Linked DNA regions of Homo sapiens. The protein of the gene in region 3 interacts with the protein of the main gene of each other region in a pairwise test. Each region holds a gene or a part of one and is shown on either strand. Other genes may lie near its edges. The genes, in order: TCEANC, CWF19L2, CEP76 and SPG21.

The links.
Region 1: the proteins of CEP76 (region 3) and TCEANC interact in binary tests that used the Homo sapiens proteins (3 or more experiments, as listed by UniProt).
Region 2: the proteins of CEP76 (region 3) and CWF19L2 interact in binary tests that used the Homo sapiens proteins (3 or more experiments, as listed by UniProt).
Region 4: the proteins of CEP76 (region 3) and SPG21 interact in binary tests that used the Homo sapiens proteins (3 or more experiments, as listed by UniProt).

Annotation. Positions count from the first base shown.
Region 1 is NC_000023.11:13,656,112-13,663,140, forward strand, and holds part of TCEANC (transcription elongation factor A N-terminal and central domain-containing protein), read left to right. Parts: intron 1-3,540; 5' UTR 3,541-3,575; coding exon of another isoform or gene 3,576-3,657; intron 3,658-4,919; 5' UTR 4,920-5,011; intron 5,012-6,389; coding exon of another isoform or gene 6,390-6,397; coding exon 6,398-7,029.
Region 2 is NC_000011.10:107,426,803-107,433,831, reverse strand, and holds part of CWF19L2 (CWF19-like protein 2), read left to right. Parts: intron 1-82; coding exon 83-198; intron 199-4,380; coding exon 4,381-5,033; intron 5,034-7,029.
Region 3 is NC_000018.10:12,685,705-12,692,733, reverse strand, and holds part of CEP76 (centrosomal protein of 76 kDa), read left to right. Parts: intron 1-1,246; coding exon 1,247-1,375; intron 1,376-6,283; coding exon 6,284-6,472; intron 6,473-7,029. UniProt on the Homo sapiens protein: Centrosomal protein involved in regulation of centriole duplication. Required to limit centriole duplication to once per cell cycle by preventing centriole reduplication.
Region 4 is NC_000015.10:64,972,886-64,979,914, reverse strand, and holds part of SPG21 (maspardin), read left to right. Parts: intron 1-3,359; coding exon 3,360-3,440; intron 3,441-5,167; coding exon 5,168-5,313; intron 5,314-7,029. UniProt on the Homo sapiens protein: May play a role as a negative regulatory factor in CD4-dependent T-cell activation.

The DNA.
Region 1 (7,029 bases), on a different chromosome or scaffold from region 3:
GCTGTCCAGATGATGGCGAGCCCAGATAGGGTTTGGTGCCATCCTGCGTGTGTTTCCCCTAGCAGCCAGTGTCTGTCCATGTTGAAATTCCACATGTGTTGTAACTGGCCAGTTTCTTGTCAGTATTACTCCCACTAGGCTATCAGCTCCTTCAAGGCAGAGACTGTCTCTTTAGGCTCAGCATCTAGCACATACTCAATCCCTAATATATATTTATTGAATGAACTATGTAGAACTAAGCTGGACATATGCCTTACCTTGTCTTTTTATGGCAATTGTCAGAATTTTGTATTTCAATGGCTTCCACATTATACCCTCCTAGGGCAATAAATCCTTTATATCCACATGATGGTCCCACAGAGGACTAGAAAGTTTGACTGGATTTAAATCCTGTTAAAAATGTGGAAGGGAATGGAAAACAATACAGTGGGTCCTCAAAAAATTAAAAATAGAATTACCATATGATCCAGCAATTCCATTTTTGAGTATATACTCTGAAGAATTGAAAGCAGGGTCTCAAAGAGAGATTGGTATACCAGTGCTCACAGCAGTGTTATTCACAATGGCCAAAAGCCAGAAGCAACTCAAGTATCCGTTGACATTTGAATGGATAAACAAAATGTGTTATGTATAGACAATGGAATATTATTCATTCTTAAAAAGGAAGAAAGTTCTGACACATGCTACAACATGGATGAACCTTGAGGACATTATGCTAAGTGAAATAAGCCAGTCACAAAAAGAGAAATACTGTATGATTCCACTCACATGAAGTACCTAGAGTAGTCTCATCCATAGAGACAGAAAGTCGAGTGGTGATTGCCAGGGGCTGGAGGGAGGGAAGAATGAGGAGTTGTTTAATGGGTGCAGAGTTTTCAGTTTGGGAGGATGAAAAGAGTGCTGGACATAAGCATCTTGATGGCAGGGACTGTGTCTTTTCAAAAATCCATGGGCTCTGTTTTATAGCACTTGATATTAAATAATCACCACCGAACATACACAGGCTAAGAACACTGAAGTGTTTAGAGAGAGAATTCACACAATCTTCCCAGACACCATATGACAAGTGACATAAAACATATTTACCTTTTAGTAATTCTACTTCTGTGAATTCACTTTAAGGAAACGAGAGATGTGGAGACCGCATATGTACGCATTTTCTTCAAACTTAGGAGAAACTGGAAGGCCCCAAATAGGAGAATGATTAAAAACTATCGCAAACTCCTAGGATGATCCAATAACATAACCATTTAAAAATCGTGTTTTTAGAGAATATTTAATGATGTGGAAAAATAGTCCTAAAGCTAAGTGAAAAAAAATCAAGATGCAAAACTATATGAAAGATTAAACAGTTATATAATCCAGCAGATTCAAGATAAATGAAAACATATGTCCATGCAAAAACTTGTACACAGGCCGGGTGTGGTGGCACATGCCTGTAATCCCAGCACTTTGGGAGGCCAAGGCAGGTGGATCACCTGAGGTCAGGAGTTCGAGACCAGGCTGGCCAACATGATGAAACCCTGTCTCTACTAAAAATACAAAAAGTAGCCGGGCGTGGTGGCACATGCCTGTAATCCTAGCTACTCAGGAGTCTGAGGCACGAGAATCACTTGAACCCAGGAGGTGTAGATTGCAGTGAGCCAAGATTGCACCACTGCACTCCAGCATGGGTGACAGAGCGAGACTCCATCTCAAAAAAAAAAAAAAAAAAAACACACACACACTTGTACACAAATGTTCATAGCAGTATTATTCATAATAGCCAAAAATGGGAAATAATCAAAATGTCCATCAACTGATGAATGGATAAATAAAATGTGGTTTATCCACACAACATAATATTATTCTGCCATGAAAAGGAATGAAGTACTGAAAATGCTACAACATGGATGAACCTTGAAAACGTTATGCTGAATAGAAGAAGCCAGATACAAAAGACCACATACTGTATGATTTTATTCACATGAAATGTCCAGACAGCAAATCTATACAGACAGAAAAAAGATTAGTTGTTGACTTGGTGGGGTGGGACAGAAGGGCAGTGGAGTGAAGAAAGAGGAGTGGCTGCTAAAGTGCAGGGATTTTCTTGGGGGGTGGTGGCACAGATAAATCTTCTAAAGTTGATTTATTTGTGGTGATGGGTTACACAACTGTGAATATACTAAAAGCCACTGAATTATACACTTTAGGGGAATTGTATGGTATGTGAATTACATCTGAATAAAGGTGTTATTTAAAAATAGAATCTGGTCCAAATTTTACTTAAGAATTACATATGGAAAGACTGAAGAGATACGCAAAATTTTAAAGAGGGGCATTTTCTGAATGGTGAGATTTTAGGTAATTTTCATTTGTTCTTTTACTCTTTTCTGTATTTTCTGTGATGAGCATGCATTGTTTTCATAATCAGAAAAGTTATTGGTCTAATATAATTTCATGATAAACTGTATACATTTAAGATACTGAAAAATGGTATGGTGAGAAATGAATCAATCACCTTCTACCCACCTTCCCTCTGAAATGTGAATATCGTCTCTTAAGAGTGGCTATATCACCTGTGGCTTTGCATTCAGATAAGTATTCATAATTGCCTCAGAAATCGATTACTGCATCTCAAACAGGTGCATCTCCCCTCAAACTTTATCCCCAAATATGAAGAGTTAAGTACCCTTACATAACCAAGAGTCTGAGTCCTACATTTTTAACCACCAGAGGGAGCTGGAATGTAGAAAACCTGGGGCAGTCAGTTTTGTTTTGTTTTAAAGTTAGTTTCACAAAGGGCCATCAATTCAGGATCTTATGTAATTTTCCTAATTATTGTGAACCAGCACTTAAAAGATAATTCTTTTTTGCCTTTTTAAAATTCCACTTTTAAAGACTGCATACAGTAAAAGAGGTCTTCCTAAGAATCAAACTCTTAATAAACAACAGGCAAGACAGCACAGAAAAATAAAAAATATTCACACCCTCTATTAGCGAACATTTCTCTCAGAATTGTCTGCTTCAGATCTTGAAGTCACGCAGTTGTGTCACAGTGATAAAGTTTCAAGTTATTCAATATACTTGAGCCCTCCCCGACTCGTTGAAAAGTTTCCTAACAAAGAAGAAACATTCAATGTGCCTGCATTCTATATGCATTACTATTGAAATCAGGATGGAGGTTTGCTAGGCATTGAGAAAGATGGTGAATAAGAGATGGGCCTACAGCGCCCAAAAGGAAGTTAAGCAATATTTGACTCAGGTCAGAATTTCTCAACTGAAGGTCTGAGTTTCAAGGTAATTCTTAAAGGGAATTGTAATTATAGCTTCGGGGTTTCAGTGGGGTGAAAGCAGCAATTTGTCTTACCAGCAAAATGAGTAAATCTATAGAAGTTAATGTATTTATGTATAAACAACCAAAAAGCACTTTGCTCTTCATTTTATATGTTCTTTTATTGACCTTTTCTTCATATTTCTTTAAAAAATTTTAATTGTGATAAAATATACAAAACATAAAATTTACTGTGTTAAGCCCTTTTTTTTTTTTTTTTTTGACAGAGTCTCGCTCTGTCGCCAGGTTGGAGTGCAGTGGCATGATCTCGGCTCACCGCAAACTCTGCCTCCCGGGTTCAAGCAATTCTCCTGCCTCGGCCTTCCGAGTAGCTGGGACTACAGGTATGCGCCACTACATCCAGCTAACTTTTTGTATTTTTGGTGGAGACAAGGTTTCACCATGTTGGCCAGGATAGACTCGATCTCTTGACCTCATGATCCACCCACCTTGGCCTCCCAAAGTGCTGGGATTGCAGGTGTGAGCCACCACGCCCAGCCTGTCTTAAGCCTTTTTAAGTATACAGTTCAGTAGTGTTATGTACATTCTCGTTCCAGAGGGGAGGTGGGTAGAAGGTGATTGATTCATTGCTCATACCATTTTTCAGTAGGTATATCTTAAGTGCATATAGTTTATCATGAAATTGCGTTAGACCAATAACTTTTCTGATTATGAAAGCAATACATGCTCATCACAGAAAATACAGAAGAGGAAAATAACAAATGAAAATTACCTAAAATCTTACCATTCAGAAAATGCCCCTCTTTAAAATTTTGTGTATCTCTTTTCAGTCTTTTCACATGTAATTCTTAAATAAAATTTGGATCAAATTCTATTTTTAAATAACACCTTTATTCAGATGTAATTCACGCACCATACAGTTCACCTAAAGTGTACAATTCAGTGTTTTTTAGTATACTCAGTTGTATAACCCATCACCACAAATAAATCTTGAGAAGATTTATGTGTGCCACCACCTCCCAAGAAAATCCCTGAACTTTATCAGCTGCTCCTCCTCCTTCACCCCACTGCCCTTCTGCCCTACCCTACCTAGTCAACAACTGATCTATTTTCTGTCTCTATAGATTTGCCTGTTTTGGACATTTCATGTAAATAAAATCATACAATATGTGGACTTTTCTGTCTGGCTGCTTCTGCTCAGCATAATGTTTTCAAGGTTCATCCATGTTGTAACTGTATCAATACTTCATTCCTTTTCATGGCAGAATAATATTCTGTTGTGTGGATAAATCACATTTTATTTATCCATTCATCAGTTGATGGACATTTCGATTATTTCCCATTTTTGGCTATTGTGAATAATACTGCTATGAACATTTGTATACAAGTTTTTGTGTGGACATATGTTTTCATTTCTCTTGGATCTGCTGGGTCATATGATAACTGGTTTATTCATTTATTTATTATTATTTTTTTTTAGACAGAGTCTTGCTGTGTTGCCCAGGCTGGAGTGCAGTGGCACGATCTTGGCTCACTGCAAACTCCGCCTTCCAGGTTCATGCCATTCTCCTGCTTCAGCCTCCCAAGTAGCTAGGACTACAGGTGCCCGCCACCACACCCGGCTAATTTTTTGTATTTTTAGTAGAGATGGGGTTTCACCATGTTAGCCAGGATGGTCTCGATCTCCTGACCTCGTGATCTGCCTGCCTCGGCCTCCCAAAGTGCTGGGATTACAGGGTGAGTCACCATGCCCGGCCCATATGTTAACTGTTTAGTCTTTTATATAGTTTTACATCTTGATTGTTTTTCACCTAACTTTATGACCATTTTTCCATGTCGTTAAATATTATCTAAATACATGATTTTTAAATGGTTATATTACTGTATCCTAGGAGTGTGCCATATTTTTAACCATTCTCCATTTAACCATTTGAGGGCCTTCTAATTTCTCCTTAGAAGAAAATTCTTACATATGCAGTCTCCACATCTCTCATTTCCTTAAAGTAAATTTATGGAAGTAGAATTACTAAAAGGTCATTATGTTTTATGTCACTTGTCATATGGTGTCTGGGAAGACTGCGTGAATTCTCTCTCTAAACACTTCAGTGTTCTTAGCCTGTGTATGTTCGGTGGTGATTATTTAATATCAAGTGCTATAAAACAGAGCCCATGGATTTTTGAAAAGACACAGTCCCTGCCATCAAGATGCTTATGTTCACATTTAGACCAGACAGATAAATATAGATCCAAGGGTATTATATAGACAAGATTATGTACATTATGTGGAGGGAAAAAATAGACTGCATAGATAAAAGTAAACATTTGCCTGCCTAGGATGAAATTCACACAGACATAATCATTGAGCAACTCTTTACACTTAAAAATTTTTTAAAAATTAACAAAACCAAAATGTAAGAACCAGTTAGTCTAAAGTCATAAATCATCTGGATCATTGAGTCTGAACCTTTCCCTTGTTCAGAAGACTCCTAAGGCAGCACAGTGTAGCCTGTTGGCTTTTGGGACCCGCAGACGTATCTCTAGCTGCTTTTCAACCTGTGCTGTCTCACATTTTCCTTAGATTGCTTGAGACATTAGCAAACCCTTTCTGTCTTGTTTCTCTTTTATTTTCAGAAGAGTACCACTTTAAAGATTATGAAATGAGCAAGTAGTTCAGTTATATAGCTGACTCTGGGGAAAAATTGTCTAGCACTGTTCAGCATTGCCATATTGATGCTGACACCGGCATGATTTCACCTCCAACATGACCACCGGATTCCGCCCAAATGGATTGACTAATCTAGAAAGATCATTGATTTGTAAAATTGGAGGTGGAAAAGCTATAGCAGATCCTCCGGCAAGCCTCTTAAGCAGATGTTATGTAGAGGCTCTGCAATGCTGTTTGTTTGTTTTTCACTCGTAGGAATTAAACTCTTGAGAGTAAACCATACCGTCACCTTAAAGATTCCATTTTCTAGCGTGTCGCATACATTTGTATTACATGACTCTTTCGGAAAACATTGCCTAGGTAACTGACAGAAAGTGCTATTTTAGTATCCAGAAGCTGCGACTAGCAACGGCAAACTTAAGAAAACTGAAACCTCTTTTTTCTTTGCAGCTGTAAAGATGTCTGACAAGAACCAGATAGCTGCCAGAGCTTCTCTTATTGAGCAACTGATGTCCAAAAGGAATTTTGAGGATCTTGGCAACCACCTTACTGAGCTAGAAACAATTTATGTGACTAAGGAGCATCTCCAGGAGACAGATGTGGTCAGAGCTGTGTACAGAGTCCTCAAAAACTGCCCCTCTGTGGCTTTGAAAAAGAAAGCCAAGTGTTTGCTATCAAAGTGGAAAGCTGTTTATAAGCAGACTCACTCCAAAGCGAGGAACAGCCCTAAATTATTTCCTGTGAGGGGTAATAAAGAAGAAAATTCAGGACCTTCTCATGACCCAAGTCAGAATGAGACACTGGGCATCTGCAGCTCGAATTCTCTGTCTTCCCAAGACGTTGCAAAACTCAGTGAAATGATTGTGCCTGAAAATAGAGCCATTCAATTGAAACCTAAGGAAGAGCATTTTGGGGATGGTGACCCTGAATCCACTGGCAAGAGATCGAGTGAGTTGCTGGATCCCACAACACCCATGAGAACTAAATGCATAGAGCTTCTTTACGCAGCTTTAACTAGTTCTTCCACAGATCAACCCAAAGCTGATTTGTGGCAAAACTTTGCAAGAGAAATTGAAGAGCATGTTTTTAC
Region 2 (7,029 bases), on a different chromosome or scaffold from region 3:
TTTAGAAGTCATAGAAGCAATACATATTAATTGTATGATAACCACATTAAAAGTATAACTAATATTTAATACTGGAATTTAGTTTCAGTGGTAGAAGATGGTGGATTAAGCTGGCTAAGGAAATCTTATCTAAGAATGAAGGAACAAGCTGAGAAACAAAGTAGAAACTTTGAGGACATTGTAGCCGAAAGATATGGGGTGAGTATCTGTTTTAAGGAGATGCCTCTTATTTTCAGAATTAGGTGAAAAATTAAGTGCCTTTAGCTTTGTTTTGTGCCATGAAGAATTGAATTAATATTTCATGTCTTTATACTACTGAAGTAATTTTCTGCTTTTCATTATTATTAAACATGTATCATATTTTTATTGACATAATGAATGTAAAGCTTAAGTATATAAAACTTAAATGTGGGTGTGTTTAATGTAAAAAAAATTTTCTTATTGTGAGAAAATTTAAACAATGCCGGAAAGTCTGCATGGTACACTTCTGGAGGTAACCACTGTTGAAATTTTTTATATTCCAGAGTTAGGTATATTCTAGAGTTTGGGTACTTTACGGATTTTTTTAAAAGAGTGTATATATACTCTTAAAACAATGAAACTGTGCAACAGTATATATTTTAGAACCAGTTTCCCCATCGTTCTGGACAATCTTTCTATTGCAGTAATTACTGATATTCTTTTTTTTCTCTTCAATTGCCGGGGGAAAGCAGGTTTAGAAAGTAGTAAGATTTCTGGAATATATTTTTCCAGATATTTTCCCCCAGAGTTTTAAAGTAGACTCGTAGAATATGCCCTGGCTTTTTAAACTTAATAATGTACACATAGTTGGATGCCAGTAAATATATACATTTTAATGACCTGTTAATTTTTTTAATATATTTATAGGCTTTTCCTTTATTTATTGGTCAGTAGATGACCATTTATATGCTTTTCCTTTCCCTTGTTAGATAGCACTGTGCTGACTGTCTATGCCCAATGCATTTTGCATATTTTTCTTGTTGGTGAATTACTAAAAGTGAAATTGCCTGTTTAAAGGATATAGACATTTAAAGCAAGGTACATATTGCCAGATTTCTCTACAGAAAGAATGAGCAAATCATACTTAAAAATATCTCTTTTATCACATAATTTTCAACAGTAAGATTAGTTCTTATAGTTCATGCTGTTGTGATTGGCAGAGTTTTTAAGTTTTGCTTTTGTTTTTATACATTTGTTTACTGGTGAATTGGAATTTTATTTTTATTTTGAGGTGGAGTCTTGCTCTGTCACCCAGGCTGGAGTGCGGTGGCACGATCTCAGCTCACTGCAACCTCTGCCTCCTCGGTTCAAGTGATTCTCTTGCCTCAGCCTCCCAAGTAGCTGGGACTGCAGGAGCACACCACCACGCCTGGCTAATTTTTGTATTTTTAGTTTTTAGTAGAGACAGGGTTTCACCATATTGGTCAGGCTGGTCTTGAACTCCTGACCTCGTGATCTGCCCACCTTGGCCTCCCACAGTGCTGGGATTACAGGCGTGAGCCACTGCGCCCAGCCGAATTGGAATTTTTTTACATTTATTTTGACCATTTGTATTTTTTAGTGAATTGACTATTGATATTGTTTTCCATTTTTCTTTTGGGATAATAATTTAAGACTTTTTAATAAATCTGTTCAGATTTCTCCCCCTCGGCTTGATGTTTTTTACTTCGTTGATAATTTGCTATGGATAAGTTTTAAATATTTTTACCTATCAAAATCCCTCATATTATTTTTTCATGAATTAGTGCTCTTGGTATAATTTATTGACAGGCCTTCCCCACCCCACAATCGTAAAAATATGCAGCTGTACTTACTTGAGTGCTTGTTCAGTTTTATTTTTTATGTTTTATCTTTAATTTTTCTGGAATATATATTTGTGCATGGTATGAAATAGGCATCAAACTTTGCATAAGTCTTATATAGTTGTTTGCTATATATTGAATGAATTATTTTTTCTCACTAATTTGAAATGACACATTTGTTATACATTAAATTTTCTCATATACATGGGTCTGTTCCTTTACTCTCGGATCTGTTTCATTGATTTTTCTATCTTTTCCTGGAATTTGTATCATACTTTTCTAATTATTGTGGTTTTCAGTAAATTATGCAGATAGCAAATAATAAACACCTACTATGTGGTAGTCACTATGTGATAAATCTCTTGTTAGTCACCAAAAAAATTAGCTTTGCTTTCTTATGTGTTTAGTTTTCTTAGTAAATTTAGTTTAAGCTCAATAGAAATAAATATTTTTCCAAAATTTGTTATAAATTTACGACTCTTTTTGGAGTTTTTATTTAAATTTAACTAAATGTATAGATAAATTAAGGACAACTAGTATCTTTATAATATAGAGTCATCCCATCCCAAAACACTATTTATTTATGCTCTTCAGTATTTTTCTCTGTGCAGTTATTATGCATATGCCATTGAGGTTATTTTTATTTTTTTATATTATAAATTGAATTTTAAAAATGTTTTCTGACTTGGTGTTGGTGCTGGTCGGCCAATTCTTTAAACTTTTATTATCCTAATTTTAAAAATTTTGGGTTATGTGGAAAGGTAGTTATATGCAAATAATTATTTTGTTTTTTTCCTCTCTGTTAATACTTAAACTTTCTTTTCTTCTTGAAATAGTTATAATTTTAGAACTTTGATAACAGGATTGGAAGCTGGTATTGCCTTTTTGTCTAAAGACAAAATAATGACTTTTGCATTTAAGATTAAGAGTATCATGTTTAAGTATCCTTATATTCAAAGTTGAGTAAAAGGTACTTTTTTGTTTTTTTTTAATTTTATTTTTTTATTTTTTATGTTGTATATGTTTAAGGTATGTATTCCATGACGTTTTGATATGCATGGGGAAATAATTACTAGAGTTAAGCAAACTAGTGTATCATTTATCTTACGTAGTTATTCTCCTTTTTTTTTTGTGGTAAAAATACCTAAAATCTACTCTCTTAGCAAATTTTCAGTATATAATGTGATATTATTAACTGTAGTCCTCATACTGTACATCGTATCTCCAGGCTTAGTTATCTTACATAATGGAAACTTCTGACTCTTTGACCTCCATCTTCTCATCCCCTCTCCTTCCAGTAACCACCTTCCTACTTTCTGTTTCTATGTATGATGCATCTTTTCCTTGAAAATTGTTTTAAAGTTTGCAACTACAAGAACAGTTATTTAGACTTGACCATTGCATTTGACATTTGGTTTTTAGCATCTGTTCTTTTTTTCAGAGATCTTTGCCCGAATTCATTGATGGTGTGTCTTAATCATCTTGAGTAATTTTTTTCCCTCAGAATTGCTAGTGATATGCCCTCTGATTCCCTGCATTTTTGAAAATGATTTTCTTTGGCCCATACCAAGGAAGGATAATTTGACTGTGAATTGAATTCTCTATATAGAATTATAGCTTAATTTTGTTTTCAAAATTTAATCTTCATTCTATTATTTACTTATTATTATGGATGAACAGCTGTAAGTCTGTCTTTCCTTTGTGGATAATTTGTTATTTATCTACCCCTATCCATATACAGGCTCACACTTATTCACTCCTTCCCTGATCTAGTCCTTGTAAAGGTTTTTTTTTTTTTCCTTGAGTTTTGAGATTCAGGTATTAGGGTTTTTTTCTGTGTTTTTCTTCTTTCTCCCCCACCCAAGGCTATTGGATGAGTCCTTCTGAGAAATCGGCTGGGGAAATTTTCTTATATATTTTTAAAATTAATGCTCTATTCCCATCATCTTTGCTCCATCTTTCTGGAAGTACTAATAAATGCATATTAGATTTTCTAGAATCAATTGTTCATGTATCTTTTTTTCTTATAACTTACATTTATTTACTACCTTTTCCTAAAATATAGAGAATTCCCAGGTTAATTTAGTTTTCAGCACTGTCTTTTCTTCCTTTTGGTGTATCTTGGCAGCTTTTTGGGACACACAATTTTTTATTTCCAAGTCTTTCTTGTTCTTGAACTATTCTGTTTTTTTTTTTTTTTTTGGTGAGAATCTGTTTTAGCAATTTAACCTCTTGAATCTCACAACCAGTAGGAATTAAGTATTTTTTGCAAAGTTTGTCTCTACTGTTTTCTGTGTTATACTTTGTGTTAGTGCAGAGTGTTTGGTGTAACTGGCTATCCTTTTGGAATCTTTTTGTTATTTAATAATTTTTAATTGTTTACACATTTTTAGAAAGTATTCGTTTCCGTATAGGATGATTGTATGGGTCTTCTTTCACCCCGTTAGTGGGCTTTTCAGTGTGCCACTTGGCAGTGAGTCATACAGTGACATGTGGGGTGCAAGTCACTGAGCCGTTCCTAATTTTAGATATCTTGTTTAATTTTTCTCCTTTGTAGTCAATGGAAATATTTCAGTCAAAATTAGAAGATGCTGAAAAAGCTGCATCCACGAAAGAAGATTATAGACGGGAACGGTGGAGGAAACCCACATATTCAGATAAAGCACAAAATTGTCAAGAAAGTAGAGAATCAGACTTAGTAAAATATGGTAACAGTTCAAGGGATAGATATGCTACAACAGATACTGCAAAAAATAGCAATAATGAAAAATTTATTGGTGATGAAAAAGATAAGAGACCTGGGTCTTTAGAAACGTGTAGAAGAGAATCTAACCCAAGGCAAAATCAAGAGTTTTCTTTTGGCAATTTGAGAGCTAAATTCTTGAGACCCTCTGATGATGAAGAACTGTCATTTCACAGCAAGGGCAGAAAATTTGAACCACTTAGTTCATCTTCAGCATTGGTAGCTCAGGGCTCTTTGTGTAGTGGTTTTAGAAAACCCACCAAGAACAGTGAAGAAAGATTAACATCATGGAGTCGCTCTGATGGGAGAGGAGACAAGAAACATTCAAATCAAAAGCCATCGGAAACCAGTACTGATGAACACCAACATGTTCCAGAAGACCCAAGAGAAAAATCACAAGATGAAGTCTTGAGAGATGACCCTCCAAAAAAAGAACATCTACGGGATACAAAGTCTACATTTGCTGGGTATTTTATCATTTTTTAACCTAATAAGTTAAGATCCAGAGAGTTCAAAGAACAGAACTGTATTTTTAGAACATCAGTTATTAGCTGTGACTATGATCTCACATTTCTTAAAATTGATAGAAGGGGTAAGATATGCAGATTTAACAGGCAGTATTGTGGTATGGATTGCATTTTATTTCATAGGTTTTTTTTTTTTTAAGAGCTGAAAGCAGTAGCTATATTTGTTCAAAATATGTTGCTGCTTTGCAATTTAAAAAACTGAATGAGTTAATGTTTTAAATGTATGTGCTGCAGGAGATATTTTGGTAGATTTTGTTACCAATGCCATTACTTTCTAAGGAAATTATCTTATTGTTGAGTATAATCATAATCATAAATACTGCATGTCTATAGGAAGTCTAGGAGACAAAAGGAAAACACGCTGCCACGGCCCAAATATAAAGTGACAAATACATGCCAGAGATCTTGCAGAGGGGAGCATGAATTATGGTTGTTATTTTGCACAAAGAAAGAAATAATCCACTTTGGGCAATTGACAGATTTTAAAGATAATATTAGAGTTTTAAATATAAAATATATGTTGCATTTATGTAGGGCTGGGTTAGAAGATGAGGAAACCCAGGTTGAATGGGACTAAACCTAAGAAAATTTGCTTTAGAAATTTGCTGGCCCTGTTGGAGATAGCCAGAAAAAAAAGTGTCCAAAGGGTAACAACTTACACGTGAATGATCATTAAAATATGTTTAAAAATAGCACCAAATGAGTGGGACACTAAAGGAAGAGGTTTTAGGAAATAATAGAAACACATGGTTGTAGTAGATAAAAGCACTGTGGTTTGGGGTTGTGAGTCTGATAAATCACTTTTGTTAATGACTCCATCTGAAGCAGTGGATTATAAAACTCAGTGTGTAATTTTCGGTGGGAGGGAGCTGGCAAAATCTGAACTGAGTGATTAAGCCCCAGTCAAATGGACTCTGGTTCACATCAGGGCTTTCCTCCCAGGAAGTGGAAGGAGAAATCCAATTGTATTGACTAAACAAACATGGCAGGGATTATTGTCTAAGGCTGTATGCATATGTAATTGTCCAGTCTTCACTCCAGGTGCCCTGGGTGGTAGACTATTTCCAGTTCCCAGTCACTAGGGGAATGAGGCTCTTATTTCCTGATATCATTAGGATTGGGTTAGCATTTGGATGATCTGTAGGCCTTCTTCTGTGACTGTAGCTAAGCAAAATGTCTGCAAAGTAATACCACACGATTAGTATTCCAACCGGTTGTCTGATTGCTGCATATTTGTATGTCTTATTTAAGTTGTAAGCTTCTGATAGATACACTATAATACAGGCACTCACTAAAAGCTGTGTATGTATATAATTTTTCGGTTTGAAGACAGCACTCACTAAAAGCTATATATGTGTGTATATATATGTATGTATACATGTAATTTTTCCTTTGAAGACAGTATTCTTTGTTCGCTGTGTTAATTTGATGGTACAGAGGGTTTGAGGCTTTCTATGAATTCTGTGACTGGCTGGAGAGGGAAAGAAAAATCTAGGAATCATCCAAAAAAAAAGATTCCTGAGAATGTAGAGTGGTTGTAAAGTAGGAGACCAAGACAGGACCTTGAAGAATGCCTAGTTGTTACAAATAATCTTTGTCTTATAAGTGAATGGTCATGATTGGAAAAATTAGTTGAATTAGTTTTTACTTCTTTGTATGTATTGTTCATATATCTTTACCTTTCTTGTTATTTACACCAGTATTATTTTTTAGAACATGCCATTTGTAATCTTAATAAATGTATATGTATAAAATTTAAACAATATAGACAGAAGAGTATAAAACAAGAATATGAAGCATAGGTGAGTATAAAATGAAAAAGTAAATCTCCCTTTCATGTCACTTCCAACCCTAATCCTATTTGCCAGGTTAACAGTGTTGGTAGTGTCTTTCCAAATTTTTTAGTGTATTTGAAAATGTGTAATATATATATTTA
Region 3 (7,029 bases):
AGCTAGACAGCTTGCTCTCAAGGAGTTTAGATTCTAGTGCAGGAGAAACAATAAGTCAGCAAACAAAATAATCAGATAGTAGAAGGTGTTTTATGGAGAATTATTACAGGTGATATGATACAGTGGTTATTGGGTGGCTAATTATAGGTCGAGTGACTAAGGTAGGGAAAGAGTCTGAACAACAGGAAGTAACCAGCCATGCAAAGATTGGGGCTGAGCTTCCAGCACTGGGAACAGCCTAGAACAAAAGCCCCTATGGAGGACCGAAAGCCCTGTGTGGCTAGAGCGTAGTGGGTTGGGGAGAGAGGAGAAAATGAGATAGTCGGGCCAGAGTTCATAGGCCAGGGCAGGTATTTTGCAATGTGATGGAGAATGAAGTGTTTTAACAAGAGAATGACAGTATGTTTTTTTTTTTTTTGAGATAGAGTCTCACTCTATCGCCCAGGGTGGAGCACGGTGGCATGAACTCGGCTCACTGCAACCTCTGCCTCCCGGGTTCAAGCAATTCTCCTGCCTCAGCCTCCCGAGTAGCTGGGATTACAGGCATGTACCACCATCCCCAGCTAGTTTTTGTATTTTTAGTTGAGATGGGGTTTCACCATGTTGGCCAGGCTGGTCTCGAACCCCTGACCTCAAATGATCCACCTGCCTTGGCCTCCCAAAATGTTGTGATTACAGGCGTGAGCCACCATGCCCGGCTTGTATGATTTACTATTTAAAAATTTCTGGGCCAGGCGCGGTAATCCCAGCACTTTGGGAGGCCAAGGCGGGCGGATCATGAGCTCAGGAGTTCAAGACTAGCTTGACCAATGTGGTGAAACCCTGTCTCTACTAAAAATACAAAAAAAAATTTAGCTGAGTGTGGTGGCACGTGCCTGTAGTCCCAGCTACTCAGGAGGCTGAGGCAGGAGAATTGCTTGAACATGGGAGGCAGAGGTTGCAGTGAGCTGAGATCTTGCCACTGCACTCCAGCCTGGGCGACAGAGCAAGACTGCATCCTCCACAACCAAAAAAAAAAAAAAAATTCTGTCTTTGAGGAAAAAAAGGTGACTTATGATTATTGTATGGAGATGGGATTGTACTAGGGGTAAGTGTAGAAATAGGGAAGTCAGGAGGCTCTTATAGAAGATGATGATGACTCAGATTAGGGTGGTAATGATGTAGAGAAGTAGATAAATTTGCTACATATTTTGTAGTAATTAAAGATAATGAATAGAAATTGAAAAATATTTTTTTCAATTTCAAGCTTGCTTTGGAACGTCAGAAAACTGCAGAGAAAGAGCGATTATTTCTTGTATATGCTAAGCAGTGGTGGAGAGAATATTTGCAAATTCGACCCTCACACAACTCACGACTGGTTAAGATTTTTGCACAGGTTTGTAAATTATATTAGAATAATTTTATGCCTGTATTTGAGATTTACTGTTATGTGTGTAAATTTCATTTAATATTTATTTGTAAAATGTATTCCAAAAAATAAAAGTGTATTTGTAAAATAAAATGCTGATTTTGTAATATTCTCTTTCACTGCATAGTGAGTGGCAAGATCAATCTATGTCTTATTTTACTTTCAATTTCAGTTATTGTGGGTTTTTGAAAAATCACCTTTCTCAGGTTGAATCAATTATTGTGTTTTAAACCCTTTCTGAATATATTTGATTTAAAGTAGATGAAAATCCATTTTGTTTAACTTGGAATGTGTATTTGCTTGATACTTAGTGCTAAATAATTAACCATTTGGACACTTTGCAGGTTATATGTAAATCCAGCTCTTGTGTGCAGAACGGGGGGGGGCTCTGGGCATATATATATTTTTTGTTAGGGTTTTAAAAAAAATTGTATATAACCACGACTTCTAAGCCAGTGACCAGTAATGTTTAACTGAAGCATTTCAACTATATATCTCTGCCTCCATTTTTCCTGAGTCCTAAACCCATTTTCTCTCTTTAACAGACCAATATAAAATATATGGTCAGGTCAGCTAGGCGCGGTGGCTCACGCCTGTAATCCCAGCACTTGGGGAGGCCGAGGTGGGTGGATCAAGAGGTCAGGAGATCGAGACCATCCTGGCTAACACGGTGAAACCCCGTTTCTACTAAAAACACAAAAAATTAGCCGGGCGTGATGGCGGGCTCCTATAGTCGCAGCTACTCGGGAGGCTGAGGCAGGAGAATGGCGTGAACCCGGGAGGCGGAGCTTGCAGTGAGCCGAGATCGCACCACTGCAGTCCGGCCTGGGCAACACAGCAAGACTCCGTCTCAAAAAAAAAAACAACAAAAAATGTGGTCAGGTTCACGTATTTTTTGTAACTCCTAAGGAACAGTTCAAATATTTTGTATATATTCAGCCTCATACAGATGCTTTCATATAAGTATAGTGTAGTATATTATTTTAAGTTAAGTTTCTCAAATCCTGTACATTCATCCAGCTTTACCCTACTTTCCCTAGATTTTGGAACAGGCTAAAAGTGGTTTAGTGTCCAGATGGGGAGCTTGGGAATGAGAGGTTGACTAGAGGTGGGAATAAGGGAAATGGCTTCTGACTTTCTGATAGCGTTGTTTATATATTGAATGACTGGTTGGCAAGGTAACAACATTATCAGGACAAAGGCAAGGAGAAACCAATCAAAATGTAACTGGCTTCCTGGCCGGGCGCGGTGGCTCACGCCTGTAATCCCAGCACTTGGGGAGGCCGAGGCAGGTGGATCCTCTGAGGTCAGGGGTTTGAGACCAGCCTGGCCAACATGGCGAAACCTTGTCTCTACTAAAAATACAAAAATTAGCCAGGCTTGGTGGCAGGCACCTATAATCCCAGTTAGTCAGGAGGCTGAGGCAGGAGAATTGCTTAACCCGGGAGGCGGAGGTTGCAGTGAGCGAAGATCACGCCATTGCACTCCAGCCTGGGCAACAGAGTGAGACTCTGTCTCAAAACAATAACAACGACAAAAAATATACATATATATATATATAAACTGGCTCCCTGCTGTCTATATAGTCTGAGGCATTTATTCATTGCCACGTGGAATTAGGAACTAGAGAGGACTCAGGATGGAGTGAGGCAGTGAATCAGAGAAATGGCAGGATCAAAGAGGAGGAAGAAGTTGAAATGCACTAAGGAAGTCAAGGAAGTGGGATTTTCTTTTAGGAAATATTACTTAAACGACTTCCTCTCTCAGAATTCATTTTAAGATTTGAACCATAGAACGTAATTTAGTCTCATAGTAACCATATAAGATTGTCAAGTGGCCAGGCATTGGCTCTTTTTGTAAACAGTATGAAGGTTAGAGAAGTGAACAGTCTTTTCAAGGCCAAACAGCAACTCAGTCATGGCAAAGTCTGTGTCAAATTGGAGTTTCAACTGGTGCCTTTTTGGTTTATGCCACCTCTTTCCATATACATAGAGTAAATAAAATGCTGATTTAATTTAGATTCCTCAGAACTGTTTCTTGCTGCTTCCTGTATTTGACTAGTTCTGAAATTAAACAACAACAGTGTAAAACAGTCAATCTAATTATAAAAACAATAGTTATAAATCAAAACGTTAATATACATATCCAGGCCAAAAAAATTTCTAATGTATCCAGCACTGAAAGTAAAGTAAAGAACTTTTTTTTGTTGTTGTTGTGAGACAGAGTCTCAGTCACCCAGGGTTGAGTGCAGTGGTGCGATCTTGGCTCACTGCAACCTCCACCTCCCAGATTCAAGTGATTCTCCTGCCTCAGCCTCCCAAGTAGCTGGGACTACAGGCACGTGCCACCATGCCTGGCTAATTTTTTGTGTTTTTAGTAGAGATGGGGTTTCACTGTGTTAGCCAGGATGGTCTCGATCTCCTGACCTCATGACCCGCCCGCCTCGGCCTCCCAAAGTGCTGGGATCATAGGCGTGAGCCACCACACCTGGCCAAGAACTTTTTGCAATGATGGAAATGTTCTGTATCTGTGCTAACCAGTATGGTAGCCACCAGCCATGTACTGAGCATTCAAAATGTGGCTATTATGACTAAAAATAATTGAATTTTAAATTTTAATTAAAATTTAAATAGCTCATAATGGTTAGTGATTTTCTCACTGGACAGTGCCCATTCAGAGGTTGAAATATTAACTTTTCAAAACAGTTAAGTAGCTTGTGGGGATATATTTAGATAATATTAGAATATTGCTGTAATAAAATGATATATCTTACATTCTAAGATGCTACTATTGATGATTGACTTAGGCAAATGCTTCCACTTCTTATGTGCTCATCTTTTCTTGCCTGTTAGTGGATTTGTAAGAATAGGAGTAACAGTCCTGCACCTCAATACTAACCAAAGATCTGTAGATTTGCCGTGGCCATTATACTTAAAAATTCATTATTCTTTTTACCCTTTGTTAGCTGGTTTTGCTATAGTATAGTAGTAATTCATTGAATGATGCTTTTTGAACTTTTTAGTGCAAGAAACTTTAAAATAAGTTACAGAAATTGAACTTTAAGGCCACTAGGTTTTGTTTTTTTTTTTTTTTTTTTGAGATGGAGTCTCGCTCTCGCCCAGGCTGGAGTGCAGTGGCACGATCTCGGCTCACTGCAAGCTCCGCCTCCCAGATTCATGCCATTCTCCTGCCTCAGCCTCCTAAGTTGCTGGGACCACATGCCTGGCTAATTTTTTTTGTATTTTTAGTGGAGATGGGGTTTCACCATGTTAGCCAGGATGGAATTGATCTCCTGACCTCGTGATCCACCCACCTTGGCCTCCCAAAGTGCTGGGATTACAGGCGTGAGCCACCGTGCCCAGCCTAAGGCCATTAGGTTTTAAGAAAATGTTGTAAATCACTTGAGGATTGAGGATATTCTTTTAATATTTAGTTTGTGATTTCAGGACTTAGTATTCTTATACCACACTAGATTATTAGTAATGCTAAGTTCATGTAAAAGAAAACCATAGTTCTCTACATCCCCCCAAAATTAGAATAATAATCCTCTGTTTTAAAAATCGGTGCCCTCTAGGCCAGGCACAGTGGCTCACACCTGTAATACCAGCACTTTGGGAGGTCGAGGTGGGCGGATCACTTGAGGTCAGGAGTTTGAGACCAAGCCTGGTCAACATCGTGAAACCCCATCTCTACAAAAATACAAAAATTAGCCAGGTGTGGTGGCACATACCTGTAATCCCAGCTACTCAGGAGGCCGAGGCACAAGAATCGCTTGAACCCATGGGCGGAGGTTGCAGCGAGCCGAAATCACACTACTGCACTCCAGCCTGGACAACAGCGAGACTCTGTCTCAAAAAAAAAAAAAAAAAAATTGATGCCTTCTATAGTTGAGAACTATAGGTATGAGTGGAATCTATAGCCAAGTTGCTCTGCAACATAAAAATTAATGATCTTTCTCATTATAATCAAATGTAAATAAGTGAGTTTTTTTTTCCTTGCTAAAGTATGGGACTATATTGGAAAAAGATGTTCTGGTTGTGGAGAAAGACATCAGTGGTTCTGATAATTCAAACAGATGGTGTTTCTTTTGGCTGGGTTAGATCTCATGTCCTGAGGAACCCTATCAGGGAGGGTAGGTCATCTCCAAATCTTGAATAGTAAGTGGCCCTTTCACAGTGCCGTATCAGTAACCATGAAGGTAAAGAGATTGTGGACTTTGGTAATACTCACTGTAAAATCACAGTGGTAGACAGTCATCAGAGACCTATATATGCATACAAGTTATTCAGCACCAACACCAGGAGATATCCTGTATTTAGGATGTAAAACTTTTTCTAGAGTGTTTTTTGAAATTTTGCTTTCAATTGACTTGGTTAACAAATTATTGTTTCCTGTGGATCTCTAAATTTGAGGCCCTAATGGAAACAAACTAGAATCAAGCTACAATCATTTCTGTTATATCAGCCAATCAGAAGAGTTATTTGTTCTGTCTGGCTATATGTTGTTAAATTCTATATGGTAATGTGAAAAAATACTTCAGCTTAGAGCACCTCTCCCTCCCCTACATACCTACCCACACATTTCTCAGAGGAGTTCTTATTGCCACAGCCTTTGGAGTAAAACAGCTCAGAGCTTGAACCTGGCTCTGTTGCATAATAGCTGTAGCTCCTCAGTTTTCATCTATAAAATGAAAATAACGGAGATGAGGATTAAGGGAAATTATATACACAGCACTTTGCAGCCAAATACTGGATACAAGGTAAGCACTCGATCAATGGTATGCTGAATTATTTTATCCTACATTAATGTATTTGAAAAAAACATAATTGGGGATGATTAATATGTCATTACAGATGTTTTTCCCCTTTTCCCTAGGATGAAAATGGGATAAATAGACCAGTCTGTTCCTATGTTAAACCACTTCGAGCTGGACGGCTTCTTGATACTCCAAGGCAAGCAGCAAGATTTGTTAATGTCCTTGGTTATGAACGAGCCCCTGTTATTGGAGGAGGAGGTAAACAGGAGCAGTGGTGCACTCTGCTGGCCTTTCTCTGTAGAAACAAGGTATTATACACACATAATAGAATTAAGTAGCAGTATATCATAGTTACTCTGAATTTGTAATCCATTTGTAAAAGAATGCCTTAGAAAAATGCACATATAGTCAACCCTCTGTACCCACAGGTTCTGTATCTGTAGATTCAACCAACTGCAGATCAAAAATACTTACAAAAGTAAAAAATTACAATAATAAAAAATAGTACAAATTAAAAAATGGTGTGTAACAACGTTTATGTAGCATTTACATTGTATTGAGATTTTTAAACAATTTAGAGGTGATTTAAAGTATATAGGAGGATGTGCTTAGGTTATATATAAAATACTATACCATTTTGGCTGGCCGCAGTGGCTCATGCCTGTATCCCAGCATTTTGGGAGGCTGAGGCAGGTGGATCACCTGAGGTCAGGAGTTCAAGACCAGTCTGGGCAACATGGTGAAACCCTATCTCTACTAAAATACAAAAAATTATCTGGGCATGGTGTCGTGTGCCTGTAATCCCAGCTACTCAGGAGGCTGAGGCAGGAGAATCACTTGGACCCTGGAGGCGGAGGTTGCAGTG
Region 4 (7,029 bases), on a different chromosome or scaffold from region 3:
CTCTGGGAGAAAGGTGTGTGGGAAAGGCACTCTTCCTGGTGACTGATTTTTTTTTTTTTTTTTTTTTTTGCATGCTTCCACATTGGTCAGGACATTGGTCTCCTAATTTTCCAGGAAGGAGAGAGTCTCTTTAGCTGGCAGTCGCCTGCAGTATTCACTTGTAAGTGGTACTCCCAGTGGGAGTACTGCTGTTAGTGTACGTTTTATTTACTGTTTAAAGGGATGAAAAGGCAGGTCACGTCTCTCCTTTTGGAAGGTAACTGAAAATTCTACTGAGGTTACCACCAACTGAGGCCACACAAAGGAAATCAGTTCCTCTTCCTCCTGAGAGCCCGTCTCTTACTTGAGAAAACAGTTATCATCACTACCTGCTGCTTTTCTCCTGGGTCTTTTCTTCTCTGGCTTAATTTCTCCAGCTTCTTTAACCATTCCTCACGTGACATGTTTGAGCCTCTGCAACATAATCCTCCTTTGTTCAGATTTTCAGTCATTCCTCTTCACAAACAGCATTCTAGAACAGGGTGGGAACTGCCCTCATCCCAGCCCTCTGCAGCCTGAGACATGACACTACCATTTTTGGTGGCCCCTGTTGATCAGCCAGGGAGGGGGAAACCGAGCAACCCATAGGCGCCCGTCCCACTCGGGAGTGCTGTCCAGCAGTGTGTTTCTCGCTCCACAGTGGCAGGTCATGAGAGCCTTGGCTTCTGGCTGGATGTTTCTTCTTCACTCTCAAGGTTCTTGTTGTGCGCTTTCCCTGTTTCATTAGGAGGAGAGTTAATCAAGAAAAGGTCAACAGTGTCTTCAAAATTATTTTGTCATCAAGATGTGATCAGAATGTTCAGCTCCATGAGGTTTTGGAACTTATTTAATATTTGTTAGTATCTAGCAGTTAAAATGCACAGATCTTTTTAATTTAAATTTTTTTGTTGTTGTAATTGTAGATTCACATGCAGTGTAAAAAATAGTAAAGAGAAATATACCTTTTACACATTTCCCCAGTTTCTGCCGAACCTTTGCAAAACTGTAGTACAAAATCACAACCAGGATATTGATATTACTACAATCTACCAATCTCATTCAGGCTTCCCCAGTTCTGCTTGAACTCATTTGTTTGTATGTATTAAGTTGCATATAATTTTGTCACCTGTGTGGGCATGGATATTTATAAATTAAAGACTCCATGAAAGTATCATCCCCTTTCTTTTAGGCTATCATCTGACTCAAATTCTCAAACTTTCTGCTAGGTAGAATCAGTTCCCCATTCTTTCTTGGAATGGTGGAAGTCTTATCCACAAATAGAATTTTAATAATGAAAGTCATACATCAAATCTAAAATGATTCCATAATTCATATGGCAGTATCCATTCCAGTGATTCATCAATAACAAAATGAACCTAAGTGCTTAAACAGTAAGCCTGTTAGACGAGGTTTTTGGGGGAGTTTTTTTGTTTTTGTTTTTGTTTTTTGGAGATGGAGTCTCACTCTGTCACTCAGGCTAGAGTGCAGTAGTATGATCTCGGCTCATGCAACCTCCACCTCTCAGGCTCAAGCAATTCTCATGCCTCAGCTTCCCCAGTAGCTGGGATTACAGGTGCCTGTCACCATGCCTGGCTAATTTTTGTATTTTTTAGTAGAGATGGGGTTTCACCATGTTGTCCAGGCTGGTCTCGAACTCCTGACCTCAAGTGATTCACCCGCCTCGGCCTCCCAAAGCGCTGGGATTGCAAGCGTGAGCCACCACGCCCAGCCAGTTGGTTTTATATGTATATAAAAAAGGAATTCTTGGCCAGGCGCGGTGGCTCACGCCTGTAATCCCAGCACTTTGGGAGGCCGAGGCAGGCGGATCACAAGATCAGGAGATCGAGACCATCCTGGCTAACATGGTGAAACCCCGTCTCTACTAAAAATACAACAACAACAAAAAATTAGTCGGGTGTGGTGGCACATGCCTGTAGTCCCAGCTACTCAGGAGACTGAGGCAGGAGAATCGCTTGAACCTGGGAGGTGGAGGTTGCAGTGAGCCGAGATCGCGCCACTGCACTCCAGCCTGGGCGACAGAGCGAGACCCCAGTTCAAACAAACAAAAAAAAGGAATTCTTAGGGGACAAACCTGAGTCCCTTAGAAATGAGTTTGTGACTTGTACTTCTTTTTCCTCATCATTGCCAGCATTAATAGATAGGCTACGTATAGTCAAGTACCATACTTCTTTTGTCACAAACAGAAGTACAGTAGCCTGGCATGGTGGCTCACACCCGTAATCCCAGCACTTTGGGAAGTTAAGGCAGTTATATTGCTTGAGGCAGGCAAATCGCTTGAGCCCAGGAGTTCAAGACCAGCCTGGGCAACGTGGCAAAACCCCATTTCTACAAAAAAGTATACATATAAAAATTAGCCAGGCATGGTGGTGCATGCCTGTGATTCCAGCTACCGGGGGGCTGAGGTGGGAGAATCGCTTGCACCCAAGAGGTTGTGGCTGCAGTGAGCTACAATCGTGCCAATGCACTCCAGCCTGGGTGAGAGAGAGTGAGACCCTATCACAAAAACAAACAAGCTGGGTGGAGTGACTCACGCCTAAAATTCCAACACTTTGGGAGGCCAAGGCAGTTAGATCACTTGAGGTCAGGAGTTCGAGACTAGCCTGGCCAACATGGCAAAACTGTGTCTGTACTAAAAATACAAAAATCAGCTGGGTGTGGTGGTGGACATCTGTAATCTCAGCTACTCAGGAGGCTGAGGTAGGAGAATCGTTCAAACCCGGGAGGCGGAGGTGGCATGAGTCGAGATCGCGCCGCTGCACTCCAGCCTGGGCAACAGAGGAGACTCTGTCTCAAGAAACAAACAGACACCCCAAAGTACAATAAATGAAATAGAGTAACTAAGTCATTTAAAAGAAGAGGAACAATTTTACTGAATACCCTCTTAAAGAAATGCTACCAAAAAGAGAGGAAGCTCTCCTTAGAACAAATTTTGTTTCCATCTCTCCTGAGCCATAATTCTGAATGAAATTAGATTTAAGAGAAAACGGTATTTCTTTACTGGAATGGGTTCTGCTGTATTCATCCTTGAACCCCAGACTTTTTCAGCTATTTAGAAAGGAAATTGATGGGAATTGAAATTGTTACTCACGTAATATCATTAGAGTGTGCTTACTTTTTATACTCTTTTAATTTGGTCTGTTAGAAAAATGTGAAATATGAAGTTTAGTAAAAAGTGAGAGCTTATTTTTACATATTTTGAATAAGGAGCAGCGCTTGAGCAAACGAGAAATGTCAGTGTTTGAGTCCTAAGTTTTTCAAATACGTGAGTTGCATTTTTACTTTTATGATTTTTAAAAATAAAATTATCGTTATTATTTCAGTTGCAGTATCCAGTTTATTGGGACCATCTCGAGTTCTGTGATGGATTCAGAAAACTTTTAGACCATTTACAATTGGATAAAGTGAGTACCCTGAAACTAATTACATACATACAATTTTTTTTTTATTTTTTGAGATGAAGTCTCACTCTGTCACCCAGGCTGGAGTGCAGTGGCGCGATCTCGGCTCACCGCAACCTCCACCTCCCGGATTCAAGTGATTCTCCTGCCTCAGTCTCCAAAATAGCTGGGATTACAGGCGTGTGCCACCATGCCCGGCTAGTTTTTGTATTTTTAGTAAAGATGGGGTTTCGCCAGGTTGGCCAGGCTGCTCTCAAACTCCTGACCTCAAGTGATCCGCCCGCCTCAGCCTCCCTAAGTGCTGGGATTACAGGCGTGAGCCACCGTGCCGAGCCCTCTTTTATTTTTTAATAATAGCTTTATTGCAACATAATTCATATACCATATAATTTACCCTTTTAAGTATACAGTTCCATGTTTTTCAGTATACTCCCAGGTATGTGCAACCATCACTGCAGTCAATGTTTTATAATTTTTTTAATGCCAAAAACCTCATATTCATTAGCAGTCGGTCCTCATCTTCCCCCCTACTAGCCCTGCAACCTAATTTATTTTTATCTCTATGGATTTGCCTATTCTAGATATTTTACATAAGTGGAATCGTATCATATGTGGTCTTTTTGACTGGCTTTTTTTATTTAGCATTGTGAGTTTAAGGTTCATTCATGTTGAAGCCGGAATCAATACTTCGTTTCTCTTTACAGTTAAATCATATTTTTATAAATATGCCATATCTTGTTTAACGATTCATCAGCTGATGCACATTTGGGTTGTTTTTACCCTTTGGATATCATGAATAATGCTGCCATGAACATTCATGTACAAGTTTTTGTGTTGACATATGTTTTCAGTTCTCTTAGGTATGTGTTTAGGGGTGGAATTACTGAATCACAGTTTTCTTAGACATAAACCACTAAGTGGTTTTGAGTTTTTTCTTTTTTTTTTTTTTTGAGACAGGCTTTCACTTTGTTGCCCAGGCTGGAGTGCGGTGGTGCAATCATGGCTCACTGCAGCCTCAACCTTTTGGGCTCAAGCGATCCTCCCACCTCAACCTCCCAAGTAGCTAGGACTCTAGGCACGTACCACCATGCCTGGCTAATTTTTGTATTTTTAGTATACAGGCCTTTTCCATATTTCCCTAGCTTGGTTTTGTTGGTTTCTTTTTTTCTTTTCTTTTTTTTTTTTTTTTTAAGACGGAGTCTCGCTCTGTTGCCCAGGCTGGAGTGCAGTGGTGCGATCTTGGCTCACTGCAACCTCCGCCTGCCAGGTTCAAGCGATTCTGCTGCCTCAGCCTCCCGAGTAGCTGGGACTACAGGCACGCACCACCATGCCTGGCTAGTTTTTTTGTATTTTTAGTAGAGACGGTTTCACCATGCTGGCTAGGCTGGTCTCGAACTCCTGACCTCGTGATCTGCCTGCCTCGGCCTCCCAAAGTGCTGGGATTACAGGTGTGAGCCACCGTGCCTGGACTGGTTTTGTTTTCTAATGCAATCTGTGAATGATATTTTTTTTAATTATATAACTTGGATGCCAAGTTGTATTATCTTGATGGACTGTATAAATTGCATTTAAATACAATATTTTCTAAATTTCTAGCTGCTGTAAATATTTTAGTCTATTGGCTAGTGATAACATATTCTGTGGTTAGTGATAATTGAAGCAACTTTTTAATACTCAGGTTCAAGATTGATCAGTATTTCAGAATCTGCCTTATATTTGTTTATAATTAGGTTCATCTTTTTGGCGCTTCTTTGGGAGGCTTTTTGGCCCAGAAATTTGCTGAATACACTCACAAATCTCCTAGAGTCCATTCCCTAATCCTCTGCAATTCCTTCAGTGACACCTCTATCTTCAACCAAACTTGGACTGCAAACAGGTAAGAACAAAATTACTTTTTTTGTTCAGTGAAATTTTGAAAATGTTGGCTTTTGAGTGTTTGGTACATTAGGAAGGGAAGACTTATATCTACTTCTATATTCTGCAACTTCCTTGGCTTTTTTTTTGAGACAGAGTCTTGCTCTGTCACCCAGGCTGAAGTGCAGTGGTGCAATCACAGCTTACTGCAGCCTTTATTTCCCAGGCTCAAGCGATCCTCCTACCTCAGCCTCCCAAGTAGCTGGAACTACAGGCAGGCATGCATGGCACCACACCTGGTTAATTTCTGTATATTTTTGTACAGATGAGGTTTTGCCATGTTGTCCCATGCTGGTCTCTAACTCCCGGGCTCAAGCCATCTGCCCACCTTGGCCTCCCAAAGTTCTGGGATTACAGGCATGAGCCACTGTGCCCGGCTCTTTCTTGGCTTTTAAAATTAGAAACAATTACCTTTGCAAAAGGAAAGAATTGAATGAACTCTAAATTCAGCTTTTTTTATTACCTTAAATTTTTAAATTTTGTTTAATATTCATTAATATACTTTTGCTGTTTTTATTCAGTATTTCTATGTAACTAATACCATGTTCTGTTTATCCCACTTATTATTATGTGTAAACAGTTCCGTGTATTGACTGACATAGTTTTATTAGGCATTTGGCTTTTCCCAATTCTTCATCACATTCTACAGTAAATCTTTGTACAAATTACTGGGTTTTTTCCCTTTCCAATTTATTTCCTTGAGATATGTTCTCCAAATGGAAAGAATAGAGCATTTGGTCTGTCAACAGATGTTCTGCACATCATGACCCTTGATATTAGTCTGTTCTTCCAAAAGATAGAAATGGTGGAAATGAGGCTGGGTGCGGTGGCTCACACCTGTAATCCCAGCACTTTGGGAGGCCGAGGCGGCCGGATCACCTGAGGTCGGGAGTTCGAGACCAGCCTGACCAACGTGGAGAAACCCTGTCTACTAAAAATACAAAATTAGCTGGGCAAGGTGGCACATGCCTATAATCCCAGCTACTCAGGAGGCTGAGGCAGGAGAATCACTTGAACCCAGGATGCGGAGGTTGTGGTGAGCCGAGATCACGCCATTGCACTCCAGCCTAGGCAACAGGAGCGAAACTCCATCTCAAAAAAAAAACAAACCAAAAACAAAATGGTGGAAATGCTTTGGGTGCAGCCAGTGGGGTACTTGTTTCCTAGGAGCCATCCTTTCATTGATTTTATCATTTTAAGTAATTGGTAGGTATCTATGATGCCATACAGCTGGCTTACTGTGCACTTCTTTCATTGCTGGCAAGGCGAGGCTCTAGCCTTAAAATAAAGCCCAGTGGCCAGGTGTGATGGCTCATGCCGTACTCCCAACACTTTGGGAGGCCAAGACAGGAGGATCACTTCAGGCCAAGAGTTTGAAACCAGCCTGAGCAACATAGTGAGACCCCATCTCTACAAATAACAATAATAATAAATTAGCCAGGTATCATGGTATGCACCTGCAGTCCTAGCTACTCAGGAGGCTGAGGCAGGAGGATCGCTTGAGCCCAAGAGTTCAAGGCTGCAGTGAGCCACAACTGTGCCTCTGTACTCCAGGCTGGGTGACAGAGCAAGACCCTACTTCAAAAAAAAAGCCCAGTGAGTAAACACATCTGTATGATCAGTGTTTTCAAATAATGTATAGGGAAATATCGTTTTCACATCTACTTAAAATTGCACT